Linked DNA regions of Homo sapiens: region 1 is linked to region 2. The links come from fine-mapping of genetic effects on gene expression. A gene starts in region 2. The other region holds a variant in brackets. All regions are shown on one strand. Distances are between the middles of the regions. Region 1 overlaps FAM193A (family with sequence similarity 193 member A). Region 2 holds the start of TNIP2 (TNFAIP3 interacting protein 2).

The links. PIP is the estimated chance that this variant, and not a neighbour inherited with it, causes the effect.
Region 1: its variant is the best candidate, but not a certain one, in a credible set for the expression of TNIP2 in whole blood (TOPMed, PIP 0.52).

The regions. Positions count from the first base shown.
Region 1 is chr4:2,647,972-2,663,992 of GRCh38, reverse strand. It overlaps FAM193A (family with sequence similarity 193 member A), which reads right to left. Exons shown (of 21, transcript NM_001366318.2): 8 at 6,113-6,190; 9 at 4,323-4,435; 10 at 3,939-4,181; 11 at 1,002-1,155; 12 at 705-884. Among named protein-coding and RNA genes, the nearest start is that of TNIP2, 100 kb to the left of the region's middle. RefSeq lists enhancers at 4,472-4,971, 4,972-5,473. The variant C/T (reference allele first, on the strand shown) is at 8,261.
Region 2 is chr4:2,750,390-2,766,410 of GRCh38, reverse strand. TNIP2 (TNFAIP3 interacting protein 2) reads left to right here and starts at 10,075. Exons shown (of 6, transcript NM_024309.4): 1 at 10,075-10,397. The coding sequence starts at 10,122. It overlaps LOC102723763 (a long non-coding RNA gene), which reads right to left and starts at 4,679. Exons shown (of 3, transcript XR_001741552.2): 1 at 4,260-4,679; 2 at 2,562-2,671. RefSeq lists silencers at 1,891-2,440, 9,613-9,752, 9,933-10,452, 10,473-10,532 and enhancers at 2,631-3,199, 4,003-4,827.

The sequences.
Region 1 (16,021 bases), 100 kb after region 2:
TTATTATTGTTGTTATTATTATTTTTTAAACAGAGTCTTGCTTTGTCGCCCAGGCTGAAGTGCAGTGGCGCAATCTTGGCTCACTGCAACCTCTGCCTCCCAGGTTCAAGCAATTCTTGTGCCTCAGCCTCCCAAGTAGCTGGGATTATAGGTGCCCACCACCATGCCCAGCTAATTTTTGTATTTTTAGTAGAGACGGGGTTTTGCCATGTTGGCCAGCCTGGTCTTGGATTCCTGGCCTCAACTGATCCACCCACCTTGGCCTCCCAAAGTGCTGGGATTACAGGCGTGAGCCACTGCGCCCGGCCAAAAACTTGTTTAAGCATCTATTTATGAAATTCTGAGAAAAAAAGCTAATAAGGTACCCTCACCTTTGGCTAACAGAAGAACAGATAATGAACAGGAAAAACAAACCTTTCCTGAAATTTTAATATTCCACTATTTTTTTTTAACTCCTCTCTTTGCTTCTATACAGACAAAAAAGGCCTCCACAGAGCTGCTATGGGGTGTTGCGAAATCAAGATTGATATTCGAGCAAGAAAAACAAGATTCAAATGGAGATTGTAAGTATGCCTTGACTCTCTTCAGTTCTAACCTTCAGAAATTATGGGAAACAAAATAATTTTGTATTCAGTAATGCTCATGTTTAGAGAAAATACACACAGAAAAAGAGATCCTTGGCAAAACAGCAAGCAAAGTCCTACCTGCTGTGTTGGGTAGGATGGGGGTGGACTGTCTGCTTTGCTCTCCTCTGTCCTGGGGCTCCTGCTTCCCAGCACTCCATCTTCCTTCGGGGCCCCTGGGGGCTCCCCACTACTCTCGCCGTCCGCTTCTTCATCATCAGCTTCTGAGGAACTACTGCTGGTACTGCTTATCTGAGGAGACTTTAAAGACAATCTTTTGTAATTTGCACTTTTCAAAACAGAGTAATATAAAATATTAAAATGTCAGACCATCATTTTATGTCATTTATTGTTGCTACGAAGAAGCCATGTCCATACCTCATCCTTCAGGGCCATGTTTTCCCCGCCACCATTCAATTCGCTGTGGATTCCATTCATGTTGGCCACCACCTCGGTATCATCATAATTACTCAATGGATAAATATCAGCAAATTTGGCTGACAATGGTGCAACATCTTCATCATCACTACAACTGACACAAGCAGAGATGGTCACTGTGAGGTCATTCAATTGTGAAAGACAATGAGTAAACCAGCCACTAAGCACAGATATTTCCTGGACAGATCACGGCTTTCATTTACAAAGAGTATTAGTTAAGTATCATTCCTACCACTAACATTTCTTAGTAACCTCAACATGAGAAAAATGCTTGGAAGATTAACATTTGTGCCATTTGGAAGAGTAAAAAACAAAAAACAAACAGAAAAACCTCCAAAAGTAGAAATATTAAGGAAACTACAAAAATTTAACCAGACTGATTAACGTTTCCATTTGACCTGAAGAGCGCTGGTATAAAACTAGTCTCTCTGCTACTCCCAAGACAACACAATTTGTGATTAAAATTAAAGGGGTACCGATGGCAACCTTAGGTGTTTAGTGTTTGCTTTTTAAACCTTAGCTGTTTAGTGTTTGCTTTTTCAACTTAGGGCTGAAATTTTCAGAAATAGTCAGTTGAACAAAACTTTAAAGGCACTTATGTAACAGAAGACTAATTTTTTTTGCTTTAAGGCCAGTCATGGCCTGGTCACTCATGATCGTAATTAAATATCAGCTTTAGCAAGACATCTAAGCAACAGGCAAATGAAAAATTTACTGAAATTAATTTTATTTTATTTTATTATTTTTTTGAGGCAGTGTCTTGCTCTGTCTCCCAGGCTGGAGTACAGTGGCACAATCTCGGCTCACTGCAAGCTCCACCCCCCAGGTTCACGCCATTCCCCTGCCTCAGCCTCCCGAGTAGCTGGGACTACAAGCACCCGCCACCACGCCCGGCTGATTTTTTGTATTTTTAGTAGAGATGGGGTTTCACTGTGTTAGCCAGGATAGTCTCAATCCCCTGACCTCGTGATCCGCCCGCCTCGGCCTCCCAAAGTGCTGGGATTACAGGCATCAGCCACTGCACCCGGCCTGAAATTAATTTTAAACAGATTTCAAGGCTTTAGCCTACAGAGACCACTTAAGATGCAGCTCTGGTGCATTAAAAGAGCTGGCACATTTAAGCTCAGTGCAATAAGATGCTCCAAGGTCCACAAAAACATGCACTGAGTCCATCTTCAGCCTGGGCACACAGCAACCTCCAGAAGGCAAAACCCTAGGAACTCGTCGTGATCTCACTTCCTAGAATGAGTGAAGAGTGTCCAGGACTACCAAATTCCGGTGTCTTTTCAACACATTACAAGTAACGTGCTAGAGTCTGGAGCTCACCAGAGGTAAGTACAAACAGCACCCACAAGGTGCAGAGTCCTAGGGCTTCCTGCAGGCCCACTGCACCTGGGACGCTGCCTGGGCCAATGCTCATACACACTCCTGAGGATGACCATAGGCACAATTTACAGATGAGAAAACTGAGGTTCTAGTGAAGTAACTCAGCCATTTGCTCCATGTGACAGCAGGAGGCTTCACCAGCCCTAGCTCCGTAAAGATCCAACCCATAAGATCCAGGAAGTACTGTGTGGTACACTGACTACAATCACATTGTTCTTTTTAACCAACTTAGAAAAGGCACCAAGAAAGAGACAATACAAATGAAAAGATAACACTGGAGATTTTCAAATCATAGTTTACATTTGGAAGACATTGATCACAAGCTGCTGAAGGCCCAGATGTCCCGAGAACCTAGGCTCCCCGTAACTGGTGATGGGCAGTTCCGGCCCAAGGAGAAAGGCTCCCACAGCCAATTTCTTCCACTACCACACGTGACACAAGAGACCATAACTGACATCAGCAGCTGTGACAAATGAACAGGGATGAAATTTTCCATCTTAAATTTTCATTAGGCTATATATGTTTAATTTTTATGTTTCAGTAAGAAGTTGGATAACAGCCAGCTGCAAAAATGTCAACACTCTTTCTTGTGCCCTGGAGAGTACACAGTGTCTCTAAGGCAATAAACAGCAGCCTGCAATCTTTGTATGAAGAGAGTCAGTGAGTTTAAACCAGTCCTTTCAGAATTATTTTGTCTGAGAACAAGCCCAAATTGAAAATGGAAAGACTGAAGGAAAACGTCAGTCACCATGAGAAATCCAGACAGAAGGAATGAACACAAGTCAGTTGGTCAGAGAAATCCCAGAAACGCTGCATAGCCAAGGTCAGGAACAACAATCTCTCCCACTGCACACTTCCACATGGAACATGATGCCTGTGTGCTCTACGATACACGTAAACTAAACCTAAGCTGACTTTGGCAACTACATATGATCAAGTGCAACCCTTTTGGAAATTAGCATGTGAAGCCTCCCCAAATGACAGGGTCACAACTCTGAAGAAATCTGGGAACAGCCAACTACAATGTGAATTGGTGACAGCTGCACAACAATGTACTTCTAATCATGCGGGAACATGAAAAACAGAAACCTTCAACTGCTTGCTAAAGCGATCACCTGAGTTCTTAGCAAGACATGAAACAAGCATGAGTGCTGGGCTGACAGGGAGACAGGACAGACGGCGGACTGGTCACCCTTTAGGAGAATGAGGAGATGTGAGGCCGGAATTAGAGACACTTCTTCTCTGCATACCAACATGTTTTTTCTTTACTGGCCTTTATTAATTTACCATGTTTTTTTTTTCCCAGATAAACAGTGTTAAAAGTTTGGGTTTACTGATTTCATGTTTTAAAAGCTGCATTAAAAACCTCAGGGTCCCTTGTCATGAAAAGCACAATAATGATGTTCATACTTCTGTGGACATTACTGTATGTATTTCTCATTACTGGGGCGACTTAAATTTCGGAAACTTTATTACAAAGTCACAACTTACAAAGTTGGTGCCGAGCCACTGTCTGTGAGGATGAGCCTGGGGTGCTGCTGAATTGTGATGGGAGAGCTGGAGCCGGACCCCGAGCTTGCAGATGACACACTGGGCGGGCTCCTCTCAGCAAGATAGTCAGGAGCAGGATCCACTTGAAGTGGGAGCTGGTGAATGTGGATGTCATCAGTGACGGGGGGGTCCATGATACCACACGTGAGGATGTGTGAGAGACTGCAGTCATCGCAAGCACATCTGATCAGGAATTAAGGACAGTTACCAAGCCAACCAATGCACAAGACTAGACCATGCTCTCTAAGGGTCGGTTCTAGGCCTCCACTCAGCCCAGTGAAGGTCCAATGGGCCAGTCGTGCTGACACCACAACCCAGCCTTACCTTCTCCTGTAGTTGCAGTTGGGGCAGTCGGGCATGCTCAGCCGGGACGATAACATGTGCCTCATGGTGTCTGTGAAGTTGTTCTCGCCAGTAACTGCTTTCTTATTGGTTAACTAGAGGAAATTTTAAAATGCTTTAATCTTGCAAGACCCTTCCCCGAGACATGGCTCATTATTTTTCAGTAATTCTGCTGACATGTATCATGTTCACGGGCACTGCTTCCTCAGCGGGACAGGACCAGGAATACAGGGGCAGCAGACCTGGAGTCGGCAGCAAGCTGGGGGCTGAGCTGCAAAGGGCTCGGGTACCAGGAGACCCTAATCGCTTTTGTCTTCAGCAAACATGCTGCAGTGCGCCCTCACAGCACACACCTGATGCAGAAACCCGGCCTTTACCCTGTCTGCCATGTGCTTGGTACTTGCAAGGTACTGAGAACAGAGCTGTAGGAATGAAAAGTGGCACGTGGAGGGCAAGGGGTCGGCCTCGGAGCTATTGAGGAAATGGCACCTCAACTTCTAACAGACAAGGTGAGCATCTGCATTTCAAAGGAGAAGGAACTCTGGACCCACTCTGGCAATGGGACAGGTGGCAGCTGGAAGGGCCACTCAAAAGGACGGGATGGCCGGGAAAGGTGGCTCACGCCTGTAATCCCAGCACCTTGGGAGGCAGAGGCAGGCGGATCACCTGAGGTCAGGAGTTTGAGACCAGCCTGGCCAACATGGTGAAACCCCATCTCTACTAAAAATACAAAAATTAGCCAGGCGTGGTGGCTGGCACCTGTAATCCCAGCTACTCAGGAGGCTGAGACACGAGTACCGCTTGAACCCGGGAGGCAGAGGTTGCAGTGAGCCGAGTTCACGCCACTGCACTTCAGCCTGGACGACAGAGTGAGACTTTGTCTCAAAACAACAACAACAACAAAAGCACAGGGACACATGCAGAATGGGGAAAGGGAAGAGGTAAGCATGCCACAACACTGGTGCCATCTGTATACCTGTGGTGCCCAGAGGAGACCACGGGCATGCAAATGTGGAGACAGGCATGGGGTCAAGGCCAGGGAACCACCAATATTTGCAGAAAGACCAATGAAGTTGGAGTTCGTAAAGGAGATGGAGAGAAGTGTCAGAGAACAGGAAGAGAGTCGATGTGGCACGTGGATGGGAGATCAGGGGAAGCCAAGTTTCCAGATGAAGCCAAGGGCCCCCAGACCAGATACAGGACATCACTAGCAAGCTCTGCCCAACAGCTCCAGCAAAGGTGGAGCACAAGCCTGCCTGGAGGAGGCACCGCCAGGAAGATGAGGAAGGGAGAGTCCAGATCTGCCAGCTGCCATGTTGAAGGCATGGCACCTGGCAATGTCTGGAGATCTGAGCGCTCTGTCTGGGGATGCTGGGCCCCCATTCCAGCTCTGGGACATCAGGCAACATCCTTAACCTCACCCTAACACCCTCCTTCATATGTAAACTGCAGATGGCACCATCTGCCTCATAGGGGACTGTGGGGACTCAGGTAATATCCTTTGCAAAATACCCAGAGCTGCTGTGGGATAGAGAGGCCACTCAATACACATGGGTTTTTCTTGAGGCGTATATGGAAGATAAGGAAATAGGTGAAAATTAGTTTATCTTGAGATTAAAAACACCATCTTGAACAGTTTTTAACGCTGGCAAAACATGCCAATGTGGTCCTCCAATGCTGTTCTAACAAAGCACATCAACATGCAGAGAAGTCATTTGCTGTCAGGACAGATTTCTACTTCCTTTAATTGCCTCTCTTATTGACAAGCTTACCTGTTCTTCAATGAATCTTCTTTGTTTAAAAAGCTCCCAGTCTTCTGTTAACATGCGCTGCTTGGTTTTCATTGTCATCTAGTAAGGGGATGTAAAAAACAGAAAAAAAAGAAAAACTTTAATACCTGCGACAATTATACAAGACATTTTCAAGAGGAGACTTTCTTAAAATGATATATATGAGAGAAACATCATCTGCAAACAGAATAAAGATACAATACTACAAATATGTTAACAGGTATTTCTTTATTTTACTCAAACTCATCACAAGTACTTTTCTCACATGAAAGACAGAGATGAATAAACAGTAAAAAGAGAAATCAAGATATTCTGACTAAATCTGTCAATACAGTGGATGAACATTCACTATTTACTGAATGCCCATTATGTGCCCTGAATGTGTTAGAAATAAGCAAGATGATGGCAACTCGGTCCTGCCACACGAAGAGCTCAGACTACAGGAAAGGAAGAGCTATTAACAGGCATATGAGACTTAAAAAGCAAAGCAAAACAAAACTAACAAAGAAGTTAGGAGTTAAAGGCAAAAAGAGAAATTACTGAGGAAACAGAGAAGCATATGTGATTAATAAAACCGAAAGTCGGTTCTGTAAGCTTCTGTCAAGGCTGAAAAAGGGGGAAAAAGGTAACATTAAAAAAAAATCAGGATTGAGAAAGGATATGGGTACATATGAAGATTGTTTTGTTTTGTTTTTGAGACTGAGTCTCGCTATATCACCCAAGCTGGAGTGCAGTGGCACAATCTCGGCTCAATGCAACCTCTGCCTCCTGGGTTCAAGCGATTCTTGTGCTTCAGCCTCCTGAGTTAGCTGGGATTATAGGTGCCCGCCACCACGCCCAGCTCATTTTTCTATTTTTACTAGAGACGGTGTTTCACCATGTTGGCCAGGCTGGTCTGGAACTCCTGGCCTCAAGTGATCCACCTGCCTCGGCCTCCCAAAGTGCTGGGATTATAAGCGTGAGCCACTGTGCCCGCCTGGCCAGAAGATTGTTTTTAAACTGTGAGACAAAGTCTCTTTATAAGTTGATACTTTGTAACATCTAAAGAAGAGTTACAAACAAGGGGCTCATGGGCTATTTTGTCCGACTTGCACTTCACCTCTTTTTAAAAGTGTTCGAGATTTCACCTAATAATCCAGATTTCTGGCTTCTCTTGACAACCTGGCAGCTCTGGTGGCCCTGTGAAGACTGTTGGACCCAAGTGGGGACTGCCCCTAACAGAGAACAGGAGGACACACGCACGCACACACAGGTGTGGCCTTCGCTACCCATGCCCCAGGCTCCACTAGGGCCTATCCCAACTGAGGGCACTTTCAAGGTGAGGGTGGTGACGGCCATGAGCACCACAGGAACGCTGGGGCCGCTCTACCCTGTATCATCCATTTCCGTGACTTTCCCTAGCCCTGCAGGTGTGAGTTTACAACCCTTTACTAAACGATATGGATAACTTCTTGAGCCAAATTCTATTTGTAAAACTGACTCGAGGGAGAAGGAAACCTGAAATACACTAATAAATGTCATATAAATGAAAAAGGCAGACAAGATCTATAGTTCTTGTTCTTCTTCCCTGTAAAAATGAATTAGGCCCCAAAGTTTTACGGTAGGTTCTATCAAACCCTTCATGGGACAGAAAATTTAAACTATTCCTGAAAATTGCAAAAACACAGAGTTTCTCAATTCATTCTATGAAGCTAGCACAACCTTTATACAAAACAAGTAAGACCTCAAAGACCAAGACAACTCAATTATACCTCAGAATATAGATATAAAAGTCCTGGCTGGATGCAGTGGCTCACACCTGTAATCCCAGCACTTTGGTAGGCCAAAGCAGGAGGATCACTTGAGGCCAGGAATTTGAGAACAGTCTAGGTAACAAGGCAAGACCCCCACCGCTACAAAAAATTTCATTTGTTTGTAAATAAAATTATCTTTGAGACAAGGTCTCTTGCTCTGTCACCAAGGCTGGACTACAGTGGTATGATCACAACTTACTGTAGCCTCAACCTCCTGGGCCTATGATCCTCCCACCTCAGCCTCCCAAGTAGCTAGGACCACAGGCACACACCACCACACCTGGCTAATTTTTTTTTCCTTGTAGAGATGGGGTTCTCCCTATGTTGCCCAGGTTGG[C/T]CTCAAACTCCTGGGCTCAAGCGATCCTTCTGCTTTGGCCTCCCAAAGTGCTGGGATTACAGCTGTGAGCCACTGCACCAAGCCAAAACTTAGCTGGCACACTGGCATGTGCCTATGGTCCTAGCTACTCAGGAGGCTGAAGTGGGAGGAGAGCTTGAGCCCAGGAGTTCGAGGCTGCAGAGAACTAATATCTTGTCATTGCACTCCAGCCTGGCCAGCAGTGTGAAACCCTGTCTCTAAAAATAATTTTATATAGCTGTCCGAATACACACACACACACACACAGGCGCACACGCACACACACACACGTCCTAAATCAAATATCAGCTAATAAATTTAATAATGGAATAAAGAATGACATATCATGATCTACTAGGGTTTCATCCCAGGAACGCAAGAATGTCTCAAAATTAGGTAACCTAAACTCTTAACTCATACAGAAATTGATATAAGAAAAATCATACCATCAATTTTGACATCTTCCTGTTTTATTTTTTAAATGATAGCCTAAATCAACTAGAAATAAAGGTAAACTTCTTTAATTTGCTAGAAAGTATCAAAAGTCTGTATGGCAAGCATCAAACTTCATGGTGAAACACTCACAGCAGCCCCTCGAAGCCAGGACTGGACAAGGGTGCCAGTATCAATGCTCTTATTCACACTGGTCTGAAGGTCCTAGTGGAAGCCAAAAAAAGGGGACAAATGCTGGAAAAGATGAGATAAACCTATCATTATTTGTAGAAGATACCGTGATTTCCTAGACTCCCAGATTCAAGACTCAACTCAAAAACTACAAGAGTTAATGCCGGCATCTGGCGAGATGACTGGTCACAGGGCATCTCCATTTTCCCAGTTTCCAGCATGAATGCTTTAAACACACATTCCCCACTCAAGATGCCGGTCATAGCAGCCCCTCAAACTACAGACTATGGAGGCACAAAATGGGTCAAGATTTACAAACTATAAAACCATAATACAATATATTTTTAAAAACCTTAAAAAAGAGTGACATACCATATTCTTGGATGGGAAGATTCAATATTGGTGCCAATTCTCCCTTTTCATTGTATATGTCTGCAGTTATTATAAAATCTTAGTGTACAGTGTAAGAGTTGTTTGATAAATAACATCAATAAAAACCTCTTCCTTGACTCTCTCCTCACAGCCTCAGGGAAATTTTTTTTTTTTTGGAACAAATTTGGGTACCTGCAGGCTTATGTATGTGTCAAACAACAGAGAAAGAATGAATTTCAGACAGCAAACATAAAAATAATTGATTTCAAACTTCCAGCCTGGGCAACACGGTGAAACCCCGTCTCTACCAAAAATACAAAAAAAAAAAAAAAAAAAAAAATTAGCCAGGCATGGTGGTGTGCGCTGTGATCCCAGCTACTCTGGAGGCTGAGGTGGGAGGGCTGCTTGAGCCCAGCAGGCAGAGGTTGCAGTGAGCTGAGATGACACCACCGCCTAGTTGAGAGAGTAAGACTCCATCTCAAACAAACAAACAAAACCTACCAACTCTCTTGCCACATACATACATACTTATTTGTGAACAGAGACTCAATTATTTTACACGTATTCAACATTTTAAAGCCTTTGAATCAGTATAAAATTTCTAAAATGTTATTGATTAGAAGCAACCAATGTTCATTCAAAGGTTTTAAATTAAATAGTGCATTAAAACAGCTCCAGTGGAGAGTGGAGTGGCCACAAACCAAGAACTCCAGGGGTCACTGCAGTTGCCCCCAAAGCCTTCAGGGGAACATAGCCCTGCTGACATACTGATTCTGAACTTCTGGCCTCAAGAACTGTGAGCATAAATTTCTGTTGTTTTCAGCTCCCCACAACCTCCCACCCATGCATACATGGTTCCAGAATGACTATTATTCTCTGGATGTTACTAAAGTGGCTCAATTTCCCTCAATTGTATTAGTGGCAGATTGTTTCTCATGGTTTCTTCACAAGACAGTGAAAATAAAAATGCATCTCCTGGCTGGGCATGGTGGCTCACGCCTGTAATCCCAGCACTTTGGGAGGCTGAGGTGGGTGGATGATGAGGTCAAGAGATCTAGACCATCCTGGCCAACAGGGTGAAACCTTGTCTCTACTACAAATACAAAAATTAGCCGGGCGTGGTGGCGGGCGCCTGTAGTCCCTACTACTCGGGAGGCTGAGGCAGGAGAATTGCTTGAACCCAGGAGGCAGAGGTTGCAGTGAGCCAAGATCACACCACTGCACTCCAGCCTGGTGACAGAGAGAGACTCTGTCTAAAAAAAAATAAATAAAAATAAAAAGCATCTTCTGGTTGCTTTAGTGAAGAGACTGGTTTTCTCTTTGTAAAAGCAATGTAACATGCAATTTTAAAGAAATACACTTTACTTTTTAAGTGACACTGTTATTTTCTCCCTAGAGAGAACATGTATGTGTTATTTTTACATATATACCATTTTCCCTAGAACAACAGCAATAATACCATATATAATATTTCAAAATAAATGTTTACCTTCAAGAAACAGATACCTGAAGAAATTACTATTCCCAAAGGATTTTTCAGTCTTAGTAAAAGAATTTCCCTAAGGGCATTTTTGTGTTTAGTTACAGTTCAATTGGAGAAATGAATCTCTGAAACTAGAACTTTATCTGCCATTTCCATCACATGTGGAACTAAGGACAGCACCCCAGGCTCTTAGGGGCAGGATGTTATGCTACGTAGGACACCGCTGACCTAAACCCCAACAGGCCTGCCTGGCTGAGACCCTCGGGAGCCTCCTGTCATCTGCAGATGTGGTAACACCAGGAAGCAGTAGTGAGGCTCTAGCCACACGGGGTTTGGCACAGCACTCGGTAACGGTTCATCTTCCTTCTCTTTCATCTTTTTCCCTATGTTATCACTAACTATACTATTTTTCTGAAGTCACCTGAAGGTTACAAGTTATTCACAACCTCAGAAACTTATATCGATACATGAAGGGAAAGCCAGGTGATATGGCTTAGATTTGTGTCCCCGCCCAAATCTCATGTCAAACTGTAATCCCCATTGTTGGAGATGGGGCCTGGTGGGAGGTGATCAGATCATGGGGGCAGATTTCCCCGAAGGTGCTGTTCTCGTGATAGCGAGTGCTCAGAAGATCTGGTTGTTTAAAAGTGTGTAGCACCTCCCCACCCCCCTTCCTCCTACTCCAGCCACGTAAGATGTGCTGGCTTCCCCTTCACCTTCCACCATGATTGTAAGTTTCCCGAGGCCTCCCAGCCATGCTTCCTACACAGCCACAGAACCGTGAGCCAATTAAACTGCTTTTCTTTATAAATTATCCAGTCTCAGGTATTTCTTTATAGCAATGCAAGAATGGACTAATACACCAGGGATAAATCAAGTGAACAGCATCAATCCTACAGAAGAAAAACACCAAATGCAGGAGAAAGGGAGGTGGGAGTTCCATTCAGAAAAGCTTCCAGACTCAAAGCTTCTCTGCAATAGGCCAGCGTCTCCTGTTCAACACCAGGACAGGAAGCACCGACACACCCAAGTCATCTTTGTTGACAGGCAAGGCTGATTTGCACTTAGACTTGCAGACAAGTGCCTCCCATGAAGGGTACTCTGCAAATCCCTGGTAAACAATGAATACCAGGCACAGAGGCCACCAGCCCCAGTCAGGGACAGATGTGTCCCTGAAATGAAATCTGAGATGAGACCTCATGGTCACCTAGTCCAAATACCTCTCCAACTATTCTCCACATTCCCTATCATGGGGAACTCATCTCCACACTACAGCCCACTCTGCCTTCGAACGACCCTTGCAAGGGACTCTTTCTGATCACACACATCTACACGGGGTCTGGACTCTCCTCCTGGGGGCTGTCTGGGACGAGCTGAATGTCTGCTTCACAATGGTCACTTCTTGACGACTCAGGCCAGCAACCTCTTATGCTTCCCTGCCAGGGGGATCCAGTCTGGTCAGAGCTGTCCTGAGGACAGGCAGCGAGGCTGCTACCACACCCTGATTACAGGACCTTCCACGTCTGCCGTGACGTCATGTCAACCTGTCACATTGATATGGTTCACCTTTGTCCCCACCCAAATCTCATGTCAAACTGTAATCCCCACATGTCAGGGGAGGAACCTGGTGGGAGGTGATGGGATCATGGGGGCGGATTTCCCCCATGCTGTTCTCATGATAGCGAGTTCTCACAAGATGTGATGGCTCAGAAGTGTGGCATTTCCCCTCTTGCTCTCTCTCTCCTGCCACTGTGTAAGACGTGCCTTGCCTCTTCTTCTCCTTCCGCCATGATTATAAGTTTCCTAAGGCCTCCCCAGCCATGCGGAACTGTGAATCAATGAAATCTCTGTTCTTTATAAATTACCCAGAATCAGGTAGGTTTTTTGTTTTATTGGTTTTTTTTTGAGACAGAGTTTCACTCTTGTTGCCTAGGCTGGAGTGCAATGGCATGATCTCAGCTCACCCCAACCTCTGCCTCCCAGGTTCAAGTGACTCTCCTGCCTCAGCCTCCTGAGTAGGTGAGATTACAGGCATGTGCCACCACGCTCGGCTAATTTTGTATTTTTAGTAGAGACGGGGTTTCTCCATGCTGGCCAGGCTGGTCTTGAACTCCCGACCTCAGGTGATCCGCCCACCTTGGCCTCCCTAAGTGCTGGGATTACAGGGGTGAGTATCAAGCCCGGTCTCAGGTAGTTCTTTATAGCAGTGTGAAAATGGACTGATACACACACCCCTCCAGGTCTGATGCCACCCTCCAGTGGATTCACCAACACTCAGCTTCTCCATCTGCACGTCTGTTACTGCTACAAACACTAACAAGACTGTGGAGGAGGGCCCTGAGACAGCGTTCTCTGGGCCAAAGGCAAATACCGTTGCTGCCATTAGAGTGTACCGTGGGCGGCTATCCATGCCTACCCAGAAGGTGCTTGGGGCTCCTCTTTTTTTATGCGGTCCTTGGTAAAGGTAGGCAGGGTCCTATGCACTTGGGAGGTTTCAATGACCTAATGCAATACAACTTGACTGCAGCTCATGTTGGCAAGACAGAGACTTAGCAGGTGGCACTATGTCGTCAACAGAGACACTCTTGGATTAAGGAGCCTTTCACGTGCTTCCCACAAGCAGCCTCTCTGGGAGTCTTGAAACCCCGCCCTGCACAGCAGCCTCTCCCTGGGCTTCAGAGCCCTGAGCTCCCATCTCTGCCCCCAGCCAGGGTGGTCTTGGCTTCCCCTACCGCACCCGTGAGGCCAGAGCAGGTGCGCTTCGTTCCCTTGAGCCCCGGTGACGAGAGTGAGCCGGGCAGGAAAGCCGGCCCCTCGCCTTCTGTTTTCCTTCTCAAGGTCTTTCCTTCACAGTGTCTACTGATGGCCTGAGATCTCATGCTCCTCCCTCCTTCTGTGCTCTCAATAAACCACCCTGCGTGGGTGCCATGGGATGTGCTCTAGAGCAGTGGTCCCCAACCTTTTTAGGACCAGGGACCGATTTCATGGAAGACAACTTTTCCACAGACCAGGTGAGGCAAGGGGATGGTTCTGGGATGATTCAAGCTCATCACATTTATTGTGCACTTTGTTTCTATTATTATTACACTGTCATATAGAATGAAATAATTATACAACTCACCACAATGCACAATTAGTGGGAGCCCTGAGCTTGTTTTCCTTCAACTAGATGGTCCCATCTAGGGGTGATGGGAGACAGTGACAGATCATCAGGCATTAGATTCTCATGAGGAGCGTACAATCTAGATCCCTTGCACACGCAGTTCACAATAGGGTTCATGCTTCTGTGAGGATCTAATGTCTCTGCTGATCGGACATGAGAAGTTCAGGCGGTAATGCAAGCAATAGGGAGTGGCTATAAACACTGACAGGCTTCACTGGCTCACCGGCCACTCACCTCCTGCTGTGCAGCCTGGTTCCTAACAGGCCATGGACTAGTACTGGTCTGTGACCCAAGGGTTAGGGACCCCTGCTCTGTGGGGCACCCAGTAACCAGCAGCCCACAGTGCAATACCAACACAGGGACTATTTACTGTCCCTATGCCTATATATTTTTTTCATTTTTTGAGATAGGGTCTCACTGTTGCCCAGGATGGAGTGTGGTGGCATGATCATAGCTCACCACAGCCTCAACCTCCTAGGCTCAAGTGATCCTCCCATCTCAGCCTCCCGAGTAGCTGAAACCACAAGTGCACACTACCATGGCAGGCTAATTTTTGTATTTTTGTAGAGACAAGGTCTATCTATGTCACCCAGGCTGATCTCAAACTTCTGGGCTCAAGTAATCCACCTGCCTCAGCCTCCCAAAGTGCTAGGAATACAGGTGTGAGCCACTAAGCCTGGCTTTTTTTTTTTTTTTTTCAGACAGGGTCTCACTCTGTCACCCAGGCTGCAGTGCAGTGGCACCATCATAGATCACTGCAGCCTCTAACTCTTGGTCTTAAGTGATCCTCCCCCACTCACTCTCTGGAGTGGCCGGAACCACAAACACACGGCACCCAGCCTGGCTAATTTTTTAATTTTTTGTAGAGACAAGGTCTCACTATGTTGCCCAGGCTGGTCTCAAACTCCTGGGCTCAAGTGATCCTCCCACCTTAGCCTCCCAAAGTGCTGAAATTATAGGTGTGAGCCACTGCACCTGGCCAGTTTTACTTTTTAAAAATAACACAGAAAAAACTTATTTGGAATTAAAAGCTCACACAACACTAAAACATCACCTAACATAATTATCTCATTTTGCAGGTAGGGAGGGAAAAGACTCATGGGGCAGATCCGGGACATTCTGGTGTTGACTGCCGTGCAGGGTTCTCCCTGGGACCCAAGTCAAGAACATCCCAGGGAGTGGTGACCTGGACACACTACTGGCCCTCCTGCACGGCCACAGCCCTGAAGAGCCTCTGCCGAAGATGCCCACTTCCTGGAGAAGGTTAATGCCCACTGTCCTAGCTTCCCCCAACTCCTGCTCCCTCTACCAGAACAGCAAACTTGTGAAAATGGGCTGGTGCACCCACAGATGGCAGAGGGGAATGCAGCTTTCAGCGCCCTCTCTGCTGTGCTGCCCCCACATGGCACAGCTGCAGCCCCTGGGATGCTCCAGGCCTCACGAGATGAAGGCTGCTGAGGTGCTGCTGCAGCAGGAGACTCTGCCCTCCCCACCTGGCATCCAGACCCTGCTCTCACAGTAGTCCAGGCTAAGAAGTCGCTGGTCAGTGACAAGCCACAGCAGGAAAGTCTCTGGTTGCAAAAACAGACAAAAACATGAATTAGGAATACACCCACTTTGAAGAAAACACAAAACAGCAACTGCTCTCTCAGGCCCCACCATGAGGCACAGGACACAGAGGGAGTCTCCCAGGACCAAAGTGATCTCTGAGGCCCCTCCTCACCCTGACGTGCTGTGCGTACAGCAGCCAAGGAAGAGGCGCAGAGTCATGGGAGAGTCTCAGGGCCACCTGCCCTAAGACAAGCTCAACAGCACAGAATTCCGCATGTGACGAAGTTGGAACTTACTCCACTGAAGCTGATGCAGGTTCAAAAAAAGCCAGCAGGCCAGGCGCAGTGGCTCACAAATGTAATCCCAGTACTTTGGGAGGCTGAGAATGCAGAAGAATGGAGTAAGAGAAAACCCGCGAAAATCCAAACAACAGACCATTTGTAGCTCTAGTCCCTGTGGCTGCAGTAGAGAACAGCAACAGAAAACACGGCCTGTAGCTGTGAAATCAATGACACAATTCTCGGAGGGAGCAAGCACATGCTAGTCCCTT
Region 2 (16,021 bases):
GCCAGAGTTCCCACGGTGGTCTACAAAGCCGCCATGACCTCGGCCCTAGTCCCTCCTCCTCCACTACGTCTGCTTCAGCCACAAGAGTCTCCTTGTTTCCTGCACTGGCAAACACACCCCTGCCTCTGGGCCTCTCCATGGGCTGTTCCCTCGGCCTGGAATGCTCTTTCCCCAGAAATCTCCCTCCTTGACCCTCTGTGCATCTGTGCTCAGAGGTCCTGTTAACACTGCCCTGGCCCCTGCCATAGCACTGCCATCCCTCTTGGCCCTCCAGGAAAAGGAGCAAGTTCTCCAAACCCCGCTAGTCCAGGAGGCATGAGCTGTGCTTGACCTGGCTGCACAGGACGACTGAGCTAAGGGGATTCAGAACAAAGTTTTCTCCCATAGGGTGGCCGGGATGCTCTCTGAGGCCTAGCATTGAGGAAGTAAAAGAATTACGGAGGCCAGGCGGTGGCTCACACCTGTAATCCCAGCACTTTAGGAGGCTGAGGCAGGAGGATCACTTGAGCCCAGGAGTTAAAGACCAGCCTGGGCAACATAGTGAGGTGCACCCCACCCCCGCCGCCATCTCTATAAAAAATACAAAAATTAGCCTGGTGTCGTGGAACACACCTGTAGTCCCAGCTACTCAGGAGGCTGAGGTGGGAGGATTGCTTGATCCTGGGAGGTAGAGGTTGCAGTAAGCCGAGATGACACCACTCCCTCCAGTGTGGGCGACAAAGCCAGACCTTGTCTCAAAAAATAAAAATAGGGGCCAGGCGCGGTGGCTCATGCCTGTAATCCCAGCACTTTGGGAGGCCGAGGCGGGCAGATCACGAGGTCAGGAGATCGGGACCATCCTGGCTAACGTGCTGAAACCCCGTCTCTACTAAAAATACAAAAAATTAGCCGGGTGTAGTGGCGGGCGCCTGTAGTCCCAGCTACTCAGGAGGCTGAGGCAGGAGAATAGCGTGAACCCAGGAGGTGGAGCTTGCAGTGAGCCAAGATCACGCCACTGCACACTCTGGCCTGGGTGACAGAGCCAGACTCCGTCAAAAAAAAAAAAAAAATGCCATAAAGAATAAGGATCATTATACTTCACGTATGGATGGCAAAAGAGGGCCAAAAATAGATATGGAGATAATCCAGATAATCATTAAGTATATTTAAGAATAGTGTCAACTTTGACCATTGTAATTGGTATAAAAATATGACAGATTTCTGGATATTTATATCCAGATTATACAATATATACAGATTATATTTTATAGATACTAATGTTTGCCAACATTTCTAATATAGAGTTTGAAATGTTTCATCAAAACATTTAATACATGTAAAATATATACAAAGTTAAATACAGTAAAATCAAAATAATGTGGAAACTAGAATCTACTTGACATATCTCCCTAGCAAGATAGTGTTTTTTTCCAACTGTACTATATTATATGAAAGTCCTGTTGCTATGCATATTCTGTACATGCCATGGCTACGTCTACAAATATGAAACAGCTAGAATAAACGGAAAAATCTAAACACCAGAGATGTTTTTACGTGGTTGTATATGAAATTATCATGTTGACAAAACAGCCAGATAATAAAGTTTTCAAACTCAAGATTTTTGTCTTATATGTGTAACCTCTGTTCTATTTGTTACAAATTATAAGTCTATGTTACTTAAGTGTGTGAATGAATAAAGGAAACATCTAGTTTAAAAAAAAAAAAAAAAAGACCAGCCTGGCCAACATGGCAAAACCCCGTCACTGCTAAAAATACAAAAATTAGCCGGGCGTAGTGGCGTGCACTGTAATTCCAGCTACTCGGGAGGCTGAGGCAGGAGAATCGCTTGAACCCGGGAGACGGAGGTTGCAGTGAGCTGAGATTGCACCATTGCACTCCAGCCTGGGCAACAGAGCGAGACTCTGTCATTAACAAACCAACCAACTTCCCCCAGCGCTCAGGGGCCCACGCTGGGGAGCAAAGTGGGTCTCCTCTGAGACAAACGTGGAGACTGCTCGAGAGCGAGGGTGGAGAGGTGCTGGGGGCGCTGGTCGGGGCGCGGGTTGCGGGACGGGGAGGGGCTGGGCGGGGCGCTCGCGCTCGCCTTCTGCCTGAGGCCTGGTCTGGGGCCGCGGGTCCACACCGCCTCCTCGTGGACACTCGCCGCGAGGGCCCGCGCCGCCCGCGGAGGCTGGGCTTGAGCCCACGGGAAATGAATACGGATCCTATAAGATTCGAGCTTTCATCACTGGGTCACCAGACGGTTCTGGGCGCGTGTCCGGGGTTCATCCTGAATATGCGCTGATGGGGCCGCTGGGCACGGTGGCGGTGTGGCCGCAAGGCCCCGCGGGGCCGCGCCCACCCGGAGGGTCCCATACCAGCCCCTCCTCCGCGCCCAGGCCCTGGCTCTCCCCGCTGCACCCCCGCTGCCCGCAGCCCTGAGCGCGCCCCGCTTTCGCTGGCGGGACAGCAGCGTCCTGCCAGGGTCGCGGCGCCGCACAGCCCGAATACTTCCTCACGAAACTCCAGAGACCCCTTCTGTACCCGCTGTGTCCCCCGGCCTGCCAGTAGCTCATGGTTACCTCAGGGTCCCAGACGCTTAAATGGGTTCTGGAATTTTCTCTGCCTCCTCTTGCCTTCCGGGAGCAAATGCGATGGTGGCTGCCAGCTGCTCGCCTACGCTTTTCTGCTCCTAAGGGCTCGACAAGGCAAATGCATTGGCTCAGGTCAGGACAAAGAGCAGGATGATTTCCCAAGGTCCCGGGGCACTGGAGCTGCGGGGAAGGGCAGCGGCCCTGAGCCGGGACCCCTGTGTAGGGGAAGACCCCTGCCCCTCCTGGAGGCCGGCCGGCTCTTACGGGTTTTGGCCTAGCATCCCCATGTGTGTCCGGAATTGGTGGGTTCTTGATCTCACTGACTTCAGGAATGAAGCCGCGGACCCTCGCGGTGTTACAGTTCTTAAAGGCGGTGTGTCTGGAGTTTGTTCCTTCTGATGTTCGGACGTGTTCAGAGTTTCTTCCTTCTGGTGGGGTTCGTGGGCTCGGCGGACCCTGCACTCGGAGCAGCCAGCCGGCCCCACCGGCCACAGGCAGTGAGGGGCTTAGCACCTGGGCCAGCAGCTGCTGTGCTCAATTTCTCGCCGGGCCTTAGCTGCATTCCCGCGGGGCGGGGCTCGGAACCTGCAGCCCGCCATGCCTGAGCCTCCCCCGCTCCTCCGTGGGCTCCTGTGCAGCCCGAGCCTCCCTGACGAGCGCCGCCCCCGCTCCACGGCGCCTAGTCCCATCAACCACCCAAGGGCTGAGGAGTGCGGGTGCACGGTGCGGGACTGGCAGGCAGCTCCACATTCACTGGGTGAAGCCAGCTGGGCTCCTGAGTCTGGTGGGGACGTGGAGAACCTTTATGTCTAGCTAAGGGATTGTAAATTCACCAATCGGTACTCTGTATCTAGCTCAAGGTTCGTAAACACACCAATCAGCACCCTGTGTCTAGCTCAGGGTTTGTGAATGCACCAATCGACAATGTATCTAGCTAATCTGGCGGGGACGTGAAGAACCTTTGTGTCTAGCTCAGGGATTGTAAACACACCAATCAGCACCCTGTGAAAACAGACCACTCGGCTCTACCAATCAGCAGGATGTGGGTGGGGTCAGATAAGAGAATAAAAGAAGGCTGCCCGAGCCAGGAGCGGCAACCCGCTGGGGTACCCTTACCACATTGTGGAAGCTTTGTTCTTTTAGTCTTTGGGTCCACACCGTGTTTACGAGCTGTAACACTCATTTGTTGAAGGTCTGCAGCTTCACTCTTGAAGCCAGTGAGACCGCGAACCCACCGGGAGGAACGAACAACTCCAGACGCACCACCTTAAGAGTTGTGACACTCACCGCGAAGGTCCGCAGCTTCACTCCTGAGCCAGTGAGACCACGAACCCCACCAGAAGGAAAAAACTCCGAACACATCTGAACATCAGAAGGAACAAACTCCGGACACGCTGCCTTTAAGAGCTGTAACACTCATTGCCAGGGTCCACAGCTTCATTCTTGAAGTCAGTGAGACCAAGAACCCACCAATACCGGAAACACATGGGCTGGGCCAGGCAAGGGGGACGTTTGGGGCTCAGTCTGTCCTGGTCCCTTCTATGGCTACTCCAGTCCCTCCCCTGCTTGCTGCACTCTAGCCACCCCTGGACTCCTCCAAGGGTCTTGATCAGGCCCTGCACAGGTCCCTGGGGCTCTGCACTCGCCAAGCCCTCTGCCTAAGAGGTTCTTTGCCCAGATACTTACATTGTGTTCTCCTGGTCTTTATCCACGGGTCCCTGACTTTCCTGACCTCCCTGAAGGAAAGCCAGGAAGAGTGGAGAGGTCTGAGCTAGGAGCCTGTGGGAGTCAAAGAAGGTGCCCAGAGGAGGAGAGGAAGAGAAAGGGTGAGCCAGGTGGGGGGACTCTGCCCACCCCTCATACCCCGGCTGAGCCCTCCCATGCCTGCCTGCTCCCGTCAACCTCCCACCTCCCTGCTGAGTTGGAGCCGGGGGAGCCTGGAGGTGAGGATGTGCCAGGTAGGAGCCCCACAGGGGCCATGGGACACCAAGAGGTGATCCAGGAGGCATGCGTGGCAGCCCTGCCTCTGAAGTGTGGGGCCTAAGAGGGACCTGTTGGGCAGCTCAGGGCTTCTCCTTGGGGAGCTGACCCAGCCGTCTGTTCTGTGACCACCTTGACACCCACATCCAGTTCCTGCCGCAGTGCGCCTCTGTGAGCCCCACCCCCTGGCGGTGCTTGTGCAAACAATGGAAGGAATGAGTATTCCAGGCACTGAAGCAGCAGGCACAAAGTCCTGAGGCAGGAGAGAACTTGGTGTTTTTCATGGGAAGGAGTCAGTATTCCAGGCACTGAAGCAGCAGGTACAAAGTCCTGAGGCAGGAGAGAACTTGGTGTTTTTCATGGGAAGGAGTCAGTATTCCAGGCACTGAAGCAGCAGGTACAAAGTCCTGAGGCAGGAGAGAACTTGGTGTTTTTCATGGGCTCTTTCAGAATGACTGGTCTACAGTGAGCCGGAGAAAGGGGTGCAGATGGGTCTGAAAACAGCAGGGCCAGTGGACCACGCAGGCCTCAGCAGCTTCATCTGTGGGTGGGGCTCACGTTTACTCTACCCACCCATTCTGGGATTAGTAGCTACCCAGGGCTTTGCTGCTCTGGGGTGCTGGTGTCTCGCATTAGGCCTTCTCTTGCATGATCTCTGCTGATATCCACTGGCCATGCAGCCTCGAGCAGGTGGGGACAGACTTGGTCTACTCCAGGGCAGGTGCCCAAAGTCACACGGCAAAAGGGCGTGGCGGGAGGTGGTAAAAAGCTGGGAGCAACAGTCCATCTAGCACAAATACACATTTGCTGCAAAAAGCCCTGTTGTCAAGACAGTCCTCAGGTTTGACGATTCAGTAGAAGGACTCACAGTTATTCATTACAGCAAAAGGACACAGAAGAAAATCGGCAAAGGAAAAATAAGGCACATAGAGCGGGCCCGGCGGGGAGACCAGGTGCAAGTACCCACAGGATATCGCTCTCCCAACAGTACTGGGAGTGTTGCCAAACTGGGAAGCTCACCTGAGACTTTGTGTCCAGAGCTGTGGTTAGGGGTTGATCACATAGGCGGGGAGTGCCCATATGGCTGACCTGAGTTACTCGGTCTCCAGCTCCTTCAGAGCTCAAGCTCATGACCCAAGGCCTCAAGTTAGCTTAGACTAGCTGGTGTGGTCCAAGGCCCCCACATAAGCAAAGACACTCTTATCAGGTGGGATATTCCAAAAGGTCTAGGGCCAGTCCCTTTTTTGGAACATGCAGGGTTGAACACACTAGGCCTGCTGCACTAGCCCCATCCTGCACAAATCTAGATGAGTTTCAGAACACAGAAAGTGAATGCTGGCTGGGCGCGGTGGCTCACGCCTGTAATCCCAGCATTTTGGGAGGCCAAGGCAGGCAGATCACTTGAAGTCAGGAGTTTGATACCAGCCTGGCCAACATGGTGAAACCCCATCTCTACTAAAAATACAAAAATTAACCAGGCATGGTGGCACGTGCCTGTAATCCCAGCTACTCAGGAGGCTGAGGAAGGAGAATCACTTGAACCCAGGAGGCAGAGGTTGCAGCTGAGATCGCAGCATTGCACTCCAGCTTGAGTGACAGAGTGAAATGCTGTCTCGAAAGAAACAAAGAAAGAGAATGCGGAAAGAAAGAGGGAGGGAGGGAGGGAGGGAAGGAAAAGAAAGAAATTGCTCCCTGTATCAGCTCCTGCCCAACTCTAGGCCATACCCAGTTGTGAACTCACTCAGCCAACTCTCATGCCTGGCTCCTTCTCACCCTTTAGGTTGCAGAGCTGGACTGTTATCTTGTCTCTAATCACCCTCTTTAAAGTTAGGTTCCTCCTTTTTTTTTTTTTTTTTTTTTTTTTTGAGAGGGAGTCTCGCTGTGTCACCCAGGATGGAGTGCAATGGCGCTATCTTGGCTCACTGCAACCTCTGCCTCCCGGGTTCAAGCGATTCTCCTGCCTCAGCCTCCCGACTAGCTGGGGTTACAGGCACCCGCCACCATGCCTGGCTAATTTTTGTATTTTTAGTAGAGACAGGGTTTCACCATGTTGGCCAGAGTGGTCTCGAACTCCTGACCTCAGGAGTCCTGCCTGCCTTGGTCTCCCAAAGTGCTGGGATTACAGGTGTGAGCCACCGCACCCAGCCTGTTGTTTTCTTATACACATTTTCCCCTTCCTTTCCTTACACAAAATTTCCTTACGTTGCAATTATTCTTGTTTTGGAAAAGGATCTGTCTCCACTATTACAATGTCCACACATGAGTCCCCAGTGCCTGGCCCAGTACCTAAATTTGCATTGAAGGCAAGAGCATGCTGGGCACTTCCCATGTGACCTTACTGAATATTTACAACACCCTCTAAGACAAGTGTTCTTGGAGGTCTGGGATCCCTCATCCGCAATTCTGAAATCTAAAAAGCTCAGAAACCCAAAATAGTTTTCTTTCTTTCTTTTTTTTCTCAGAGACAGGGTCTCACTGTGTGGCCCAGGCTGGAGAGCAGTGGCACAATCACCATTTACTGCAGCCTCAAACCCCTGCCTCAAGCAATCCTATCTCAGCCTCCTGAGTATCTGGGACTACTGGCACACACCATCACACCCACCTAGTTTCTTTTAACTTTTTGTAGAGATGGGGTTTTGCTATGTTGCCCAGGCTGGGCTCCAACTTCTGGGCTCAAGAGATCCTCCTGCCTTGGCCTCCCTAAGTGCTGGGATTACAGGCATGAGCCACTGCACCTGGCCCCAAAATGTTTTTCTTAAAGGTGGTACAAAATCTGACTTCAACAGCTACAAGGCTTTTTCTGATCTTCATTCATCTCGCAGTCTGAATGGTCACCCTGTCTTTGCAGAAATTGTAATCTGTCTGGTTTTGTGGTGCTGTACCATGTCCCAGTGGGAGCACTAAGTCAGATTTTAGCTGTTCATTTTCCATTGCTGCAGAACAAACTATCCCAAATGTTAGTAGCTTAAAACAATAAGCATATATTATCTCATCCAGTTTCTGTGGTCAGGGACTCAGAGCAGTTTAGCTGGGCGGTCCTGGCCCGGGGTCTTCCATGGAGTCACAGTCAGTATGTCAGTGGGGGCTACTGTCTTCTGAAGGCTTGACTAGGGTCGGAGGATACAGTCCCAAAGTGGCTTCTTCACCACAGTGGGCAAGTGGGCGCCGGCTGCTGCCATGAAGCCTCAGTTCCTTGCCACATGGACCTCTTCACAGGGTTACTTGATGATAGGGTGGGTGGCTTCCCCCAGAGAGAATGCTCCGAAAGAGGGCAAGGCAGTAGCCGTGATGTCTTGTGGGAGCTAGCTGCAGAAGTCACACTCCATCATTTCTGCAGTACCCTCTTAGTTACCCAGGTCAGCCCTCTCCAGTGGATTGGAGGGGACTACACAGGAGCATGGATATTGGAAGGAGGGGATCCTCTTTGAAAGCTGGCTCCCCCAGTTATATGTACCTATTTGAAATCCAAAGATCCTCATTTCTAAAATACACATGGCGGCCTGGCGTGGTGGCTCACGCCTACAATCCCAGCACTTTGGGAGGCCGAGGCAGGCGGATCACTTGAGGCCGGGAGTTCGAGACCAGCCTGACCAATATGGTGAAACCCCGTCTCTACTAAAATACAAAAAATTAGCCAGGCGTGGTGGCGGGCGCCTGTAATCCCAGCTAATTGGGAGGCTGAGGTGGGAGAATCACTTGAACCTGGGAGGCGGAGGTTGCAATGAGCCAAAAATCACACCACTGCACTCCAGCCTGGGCGACAGATTGAGACTCCGTCTAAAATAAATCAATACGATACAGTACAGTACAATACAATACAATACACCACACCTGACCCCAAGGCTGTTGTTGGATGAGAGACTGTGGATTGTCACATGCACCTTTTACAGTTGAGGCAGAGGCTCAAGGTAGGTCACTGGAATGACGTGCCCCAGGCCACACATTAGCCTCTAACAGCTCTGGGTCCAGTTTTGTTTTTTCCACTCATGCCCCAGACAATCAATAGGCATTGTTTGTAACCATAGCCATGGGGACTGTAGGCTTGCTGTGCAGCAGCCACTGCACTGGACAAGCATTCCATGCACACTCCACCCTCTAGTCCCCACAACAGCCCAACCAGGTAGGGTGGGCACTCGCTCTGCCCTTCCTTCTGCTGAGAGGAAGCCCAGGCTCTGATGAGTAAGAAGGAGCCTTCCATAGCAAAGCCAGGCCTGTGTAGCCCAATGTCCGGGCCATAAGCACTTGGGTGGCTCTGGCTTTGCTTATAGGCTTGTCTGATTCTACAAGCTTGTGTTTTCCCAGGCTCAGCTCAGGCTTGGCTGTGGATCACATAAGGGAAGAAAGTCAAGAAGCTGCTCAGGGGCGGAGCCTGTGGGCAAGTGCACACACAGGGAAGACCCCTGCCCTATCCTGAGTAGGGAACCTTGGAAAGACCCCATGTGTGCTTGGGCATCATTGTGGGGAAGACTGGGCTGTGGAAAAACACTAGCGTTTGTCTGGGAATTTTGGGGAAGGAAAGGGATGGAAAAGCGAAAGGGTGGGAAGGGGCTGGTTTCCTGCTGCTTCTGCTATATAAGAACAGCATCTAGCAGGAAGGTTGTCCCGTGGGCCCATACTAGCCACCTTACAAAGCAGCGTCTGCAGTGGCTGACGCCTGTAATCCCAGCACTTTGGGAGGCTGAGGCCGGTGGATCTACCTGAGGTCAGGAGTTCAAGACCAGCCTGGCCAACATGGTGAAACACCATCTCTACTAATAATACCAAAAAATTAGCAGGGCATGGTGGCGGGCGCCTGTAATCCCAGCTACTCAGGAGGCTGAGGCAGGAGAATCGCTTGAAACTGGGAGGCGGAGGTTGTAGTGAGCCGAGATCGCGCCATTACACTCCAGCCTGGGCAACAGAGCGAAACTCCGTCTCAAAAAGAAGAAAAAAAAGGAAAGAAAAAAGAAAGCGGCGTGCGGGGCAGGGGGTTGGAGCTCTTTCTGGGCTCAGTGTCCCCAGGTGACGGAACACATGCCACGTGCTTGGTGCGCTGCGAGCTCAGCTCCTGGAGCTTCTGTTGCTGCTGTGGCCGCAAGGCCTGGACCCTCGCGGGGAGATTCAGACCCACACTTAGCTCCAGAGCTTGGGGGTTGTCGTTAAGCCCTTCCTTTCCATCAGAGGCTGATGAATCCCCAAACTCCTGGGCTGAGTTCGACTCTCCGACAACTCCTCAGAGGCGGATGTTTGGGGCCACTGGAATAAGCCCAGCACCAGCTGGGGTGTGGACAGCCTCGGGGGCCAGGCCAACTCTCCCGGACGGGTGCGGACGGCAGGGGCGGGGCCGGGCTGTAGGCGGTGGGAGGGGTGGGGCCGGGCGAGAAGGGGCTGGGCGGGCTGCCGTCGGGCGGGGCTGCGCGGGGAAGGGCGGGGCTGCGCGGGGGGCGGGGCTGCGTGGGGGAGGGCGGGGCCGGGCTGTTGTGGGTGGGCGGGGCGCACCGGGGAAAGTTCCGGGAAGGGCGGCAGCCGGCGGGGCCCGGGCGCGGAAGTTGCCGGCGGCCGCGCGGCCTCCCGGGCGGGCCTACAGCCATGTCCCGGGACCCGGGGTCGGGCGGCTGGGAGGAGGCCCCGCGCGCAGCTGCCGCGCTCTGCACCCTGTACCACGAGGCCGGACAGCGGCTGCGCCGCCTGCAGGACCAGCTCGCTGCCCGCGACGCCCTCATCGCTCGCCTCCGCGCCCGCCTGGCCGCGCTGGAGGGGGACGCCGCGCCGTCCCTAGTGGACGCGCTGCTGGAGCAGGTTGCGCGCTTCCGGGAGCAGCTGCGAAGGCAGGAGGGCGGCGCCGCCGAGGCCCAGATGCGCCAGGTACGAGGGCGGGTACCAGAGGAGCTGCGGGAGCGAGAGTGCGTGTGGCGGCCGCCGGGTCCTGGGTGGGTGAGCGAGCGGGCCCCGGGTCCTGAGGGGTTGAGGGGGTACTGGGTCCTGGGGTTGAGTTGGCCTCGGGTCCTGAGGGGTTGGGGGAGCACCAGGTCCTGGGAGTTGAGGGGGTGCCGGGTCCTGGGGGTGAGGGGGCCCCGGCTCCTGAGGGGTTGGGGGAGCATCAGGTCCTGGGGGTTGAGGGGGTGCCGGGTCCTGGGGTTGAGGGACACTAGGTCCTGGGGGTAAGGGGCCGTCGGGTCCTGGGGGTGATAGGGCAACAGCTTCTGGGGGGTGAGGGGACCCTGGGTCCTAGGGGAGAGAGGGGGACCAGGTCCTGAGTGGGATAAGGGGACACCACGGGCTGAGGTGTGCTGGGTCCTGGGGGGTTTGAGGCGTCACCAGGTGCTGGTGGAGGTGAGGGGGCTCTGGGTCCTGCGGGGTGAGGGTGCAAGGTTCTGAAGGGGATAAGCGAATGCTGGATCCTGGGGGGTTGGGAGGGCACTGGGTCCTGGGGGATGGTGAGGAGGCACTGGGTTCTGAGGAGGGGGGTTGGTGCAGTTCTTGGGTTCTGTGTGTGTGTGGTGTATGTTCAGGTGGGCTCTTAGGGGTATTTTGAGGTTCGTGTGTGGGAACACATTCCGAGGGGGGTGTGTGTATGCTGTGTGTATTCTGTGTGTATTGTGTAGTGTGTATGTTCCGGTTGGTTCTTAGGGGTGTTTTGAGGTGTGTGTGCGGGAGACACATTCTGAGGGGTGTGTATGGTGTGTGTGTGTACGCACACATGTGTGTCTTGGGTCCAAGGTCGTGTACTCATATTGTGTTCTAGAGTCCCTTCCAGCCCTCACCCATGCATGTGTCTTTCACTAGTGGCGCTTCAACTCTATGCTGGGAGCAATGGCAAATGCAGCCCGTGTCTGATAAAGGACACAAATCCTAGGCTGGGTGCAGTGGCTCACGCCTGTAATCCCAGTACTTTCGGAGGCAAGGCGGGCAGATTGCCTGAGCCCAGGAGTTCGAGACAAGGCTGAGCAACATGGTGAAACCCTGTCTACAAAAAGTGCAAAAAATTAGCCGGGCATGGTGGCACGTGCCCGTGCTCCCAGCCACTAGGGAGACTTAGGTGGGAGGATCACTTGAGCCTGGGAGGCAGAGGTTGCAGTGAGCCAAGATCGCACCACTGCACTCCAACCTGGGTGACAAAGTGAGACCTTGTCTGAAAAAATTAAATTAAAAATGGACACAAGGGTCCGGACGCGGTGGCTCATGCCTGTAATCCCAGCACTTTGGGAGGCCAAGGCGGCGGATCACGAGGTCAGGAGATTGAGACCATCCTGGCTAACATGGTGAAAACCCATCTCTACTAAAAATACAAAAAATTAGCTGGGCGTGGTGGCGGGCGCCTGTAGTCCCAGCTACTTGGGAGGCGGAGGCAGGAGAATGGCATGAACCCGGGCGGCGGAGCTTGCAGTGAGCCGAGATTGTGCCACTGCACTCCAGCCTGGGCGACAGAGCGAGACTCCGTCTCAAAAACAAACAAAAAAAGACGCAAATCCTGACTTTCTTCTCTTTGTCCTTGTCTATGATGTTTATGTCTGTTTTTTGATGATAAACTATAACACCACAACAGCAGTATAAGTAACAGTTTTTTTGTGCAATAGTATTTGCAAGCATCTGAAACATTCGGGTGAGCTCTGGCATCTATTATTCCATTTGATTCATGGCTATTATCCTAGTTTGCCCAGGAAAGAAACTAAGCCTGCAAAGGCAGTAGTCTGCGAAAGATAGTTTTTGTCTCCAGGGTTGGCCCCACAGCCTGATTTTAGAGAGAAAAAGAAACATGCCCTTTTTAAAAAAGAAAAAAAATTATAAAACAATTTTGAATATCTGAAAAATAAAGAATAAAATAGCCGCTGTAGTCCCACAGTGCAGGGATGACTAGTGTTAATCTCTTGGCATGCCTTCTTCCTGTTTTTCCTCTGTGTATAAGGTGTGTGTACACTTGGCATGGTTGTTTTCATGCTGTGTATACAGTTGTACTTAATATTAGGTTGTCAGTATCTACATCATTTAAAATACTTTCAGCAGCCAGTGTCTCCCCTACTCCACTCTCTCCCTCTTTCTGGAAGGTACATCCTGACTCACTAGAGCAGAAGGGAAGTTTAGAGGTCACCTGGTCTGCACCAACAGGTTTTAGAGTTGTGGATGCCAGGAGCCACAGATGAGTACAGACCAAGGACCCGGAAGGACACTCCGAAGTCATCTCCAGAATGTTGGTGGGACAGGATGCAGGGACCTCACAACCAGAGCAGTATACTTGCAGTCGGTGGCCATTGGTGTTCCGCTCACATGTGTTCCCTGGTGTCCTGTGTATCTGGCCACTCACCAAGCAGCTTATTGCAGCTTCCTGGTAGCCTCAGATAGAATTAGTTCTGTGTTCCCAGTATTACTGGCCCTGGTCCTGTCTTCCCAACATGTAAGCATGTAGGTTTTGTTTTGGGATTTTTATTTTTTTATTTTTTTGAGACAGGGTCTCACTCTGTTACCCAGGCTGGAGTGCAGTGGCACAAACATGGCTCACTGTGGCCTCAACCTCCTGGGCTTACGTGATCCTCCTGCCTCAGCCTCCCATATAGCTGGGACCACAGGAGTGTGCCATCACACCTGGCTAATTTTATTTTTTTTTTGTAGAGACGGGATCTTGCTGTGTCGCCCAGGCTGGTCTAGAACTCCTTTCTTCAAGTGATCCTCCTGCCTTGGCCTCCCAAAGTGCTAGGATTACAGGCATGAGCCACCACGCCCAGCATGGGGGGATTTTTAATTATTTAAGGAACATTTTAATGATTTAGTTTTGTTTGTTTGTTTTTTTATTTTTATTTTTATTTTTTTAGAGACAGGGTCTTGGTCTGTGACACTGCCACCTAGGCTGGAATGCCTTGGGGCCATCATAGCTCACTGTAACCTTGAACTCCTGGGCTCAACCAGCCCTCCCATCACAGCCTCCCGAGTGTCTAGGACTATAGGCGAAGAGCCTACCACAAGGACTATGAGCCACCACACCTGGCTAACTTCTTAAGTTTTTGTAGAGAAGGGGTCGCATGATGTTGCCCAAGCTGGTCTCAAACTCCTGGCCTCCAGGGATCCTCCTGTCTCGGCCTCTCAAAGTGCTGGTATTACAGGCGTGAGCCACTGTGCTGGCCTTATCTGGTATTTTATGCAATTACATATTTATTGCTCATCCCAACGTTCAATCTGAGGTCGGTCATGGAACCTGTGGAAGAATGGAGAGGTTTGTCACCTCCTGCAGGCCCTGGGTTCACTGAGGTGGCAGTGCAGAGTTAAAGACACAGCAGGAAGCAAGCCGTTGCTAGGTTGCTCTCATCTATGAGAGCCCGTTAGGAGCAGGAACCCTGGACCAGTAGGGACTGAGGGCTCCCAGAGAGAGTGCTGAGGCTCAGAATGTGGAGGAGCTGACCAGTGCGTCTGTGATCAAGCTGCGGTCAGTGTGTGATGGGGCAAGATCAGGCCAGAGAATTGTGGTCCTCAGTGCAGCCACAGCTGGACTTGAGACCTTACCTCATCTGTAACACAAGGCCTGAGTGGATAACTTTACAAAGCCCCTCCAGTTAATACTTTCTGGAATAATGGCACCAATTCATTGTGCAACCTGGTCCTGCCCAACCCCATCCTGTCACCATTCTCGGGACCAGCTTCATAGGCTTTGCCTGGTCCTGGCGTATCAGCCCCCTTTCCCTTCCGGCTTAGCTTAGCTTTGCTTTGCTTGTTTTCTTGGCTCTTTCTTTTCTTTTCTCTTCTCTTCTTTTCTTTCTTTCCTTCCTTGTTCCTTTTTTTTTTTTTTTAAACTGAGTCTTGCTCTGTCGCCAGGCTGGAGTGCAGTGGCGGGATCTTGGCTCAGTGCAACCTCCACCTCCCGGGTTCAAGCGATTCTCCTGCCTCAGCCTCCTGGGTAGCTGGGACTACAGGCGCCCACCAGCACGCCTGGCTAATTTTTTGTATCTTTAGTAGAGGCGGGGTTTCACCATGTTGGCCAGGCTGGTCTTGAACTCCTGACCTCGTGATCCACCCACCTCAGCCTCCCAAAGTGCTGGGATTGCAGGCATGAGCCACCGCCCCGGGCCACCTTCCTTGTTCCTTTCTTTCTTCCTTTCTCCTCCCCTCCCCTCCCCTCTTTTTGACAGGGTCACTCTGTTGCCCAGGCTGGAGTGCAGTAGCATGATCATAGCTCACTGCAGCCTTGACCTCCTGGGCTTAAGTGATCCTCCTGTCTCAGCCTCCCGAGTAGCTGGGACTACAAACGCCCACCACCATGCCTGGCTAATGTTTTTTGTATTTTTTGTAGAGACAAGGTCTCGCCATGTTGCCCAGGCTAGTCCCAACCCTTGGGCTCAAGTGATCCTCCCACCTCGGCCTCCCAAAGTGCTGGGATTACAGGCTTTGGGAGAATACACTTCTGTTGTTTAAGACACCAAGTTTGTGATACTTTGTTGCCGCAGCGCTAAAAGCCAAGAGGCCACTGTGCCTCTTAAGGCCAATCCACAAGACTATTAATAGAGCTGTTTACACTTTTGTGTTCTGAGCGTGGAGCTATGGAGTTGTGGGTCCCGGCGACAGGCTTTCCTGAGAGATGTCAGCCCAGTTGCTGACTAGTCTGTGTGTTGTGCCTGTGTGTGTAGACCCACAACTCCAGCTCGTACCTTGTTTTCTGACCACAGTGGTCGAGGTGCTGTTGTGTCCTAAGAACTGTTACTAACTGGACAAGGCACTCAGACAGATAAACCAGCACAAAGCTCTGCAACTTCAGAGCCAGTGACAAATGCCAGAAGCCCGGGGGCTGGAGGGGTCCTGGGGCCCTCATGCTGCCGAGGGGAGGATGAGTGGGGCAGCCCTTTGCAGGGCTGGCCTGCCCCCACGGGTTGAGCGTAGAGCCTGCGTCCTGATCTGTCTCTGTATGGCCCAGTCTTATTCCCATTTACTGGGCATCTGTGTGGGGCTGGGCTCAGTGTTGAGTACTAGGGTGTGGAGGCAAGAGAGAGCCACGCCCTCAGGATCTACGAGCTGTGGACATGCTGCCCTCCTGTTTGTGGAGCTGTTTGTTTCTCCTACTGTCAGCATTTGACCAACGCAGGAAGGAGGCTCCGAAATCAGATTTTACCTGGGCACGGTGACCCCTGCTGAGGCAGGAGGAGGATTGCTTGAGGCCAGGAGTTCAAGACCAGCCTAGGCAACATAGCCACACCCTGTCTTTATCAAAAAAAAAAAAAACCAGAAGTCAGGTTTTGCTCAAAGTCCTTTATCCCTGAAGAGGGTCTCACTGTCACCCAGGCTAGAGTGCAGTGGCACCGTCACAGCACACTGCAGCCTTGACCTCGAGCCCATGGTCCCAGCTATTTGGGAGGTTGAGACGGGAGGAACACTTGGACCCAGGAGTTCAAGGCTTCGGTGAGCTGTGATTATACCACTGTATTGCAGCCTCGGTGTCAGGGCGAGACCCTGTCTCTAAAATAATAAAATAATAATAATAATAATAATAATAATAATAATAATCAGGGTTC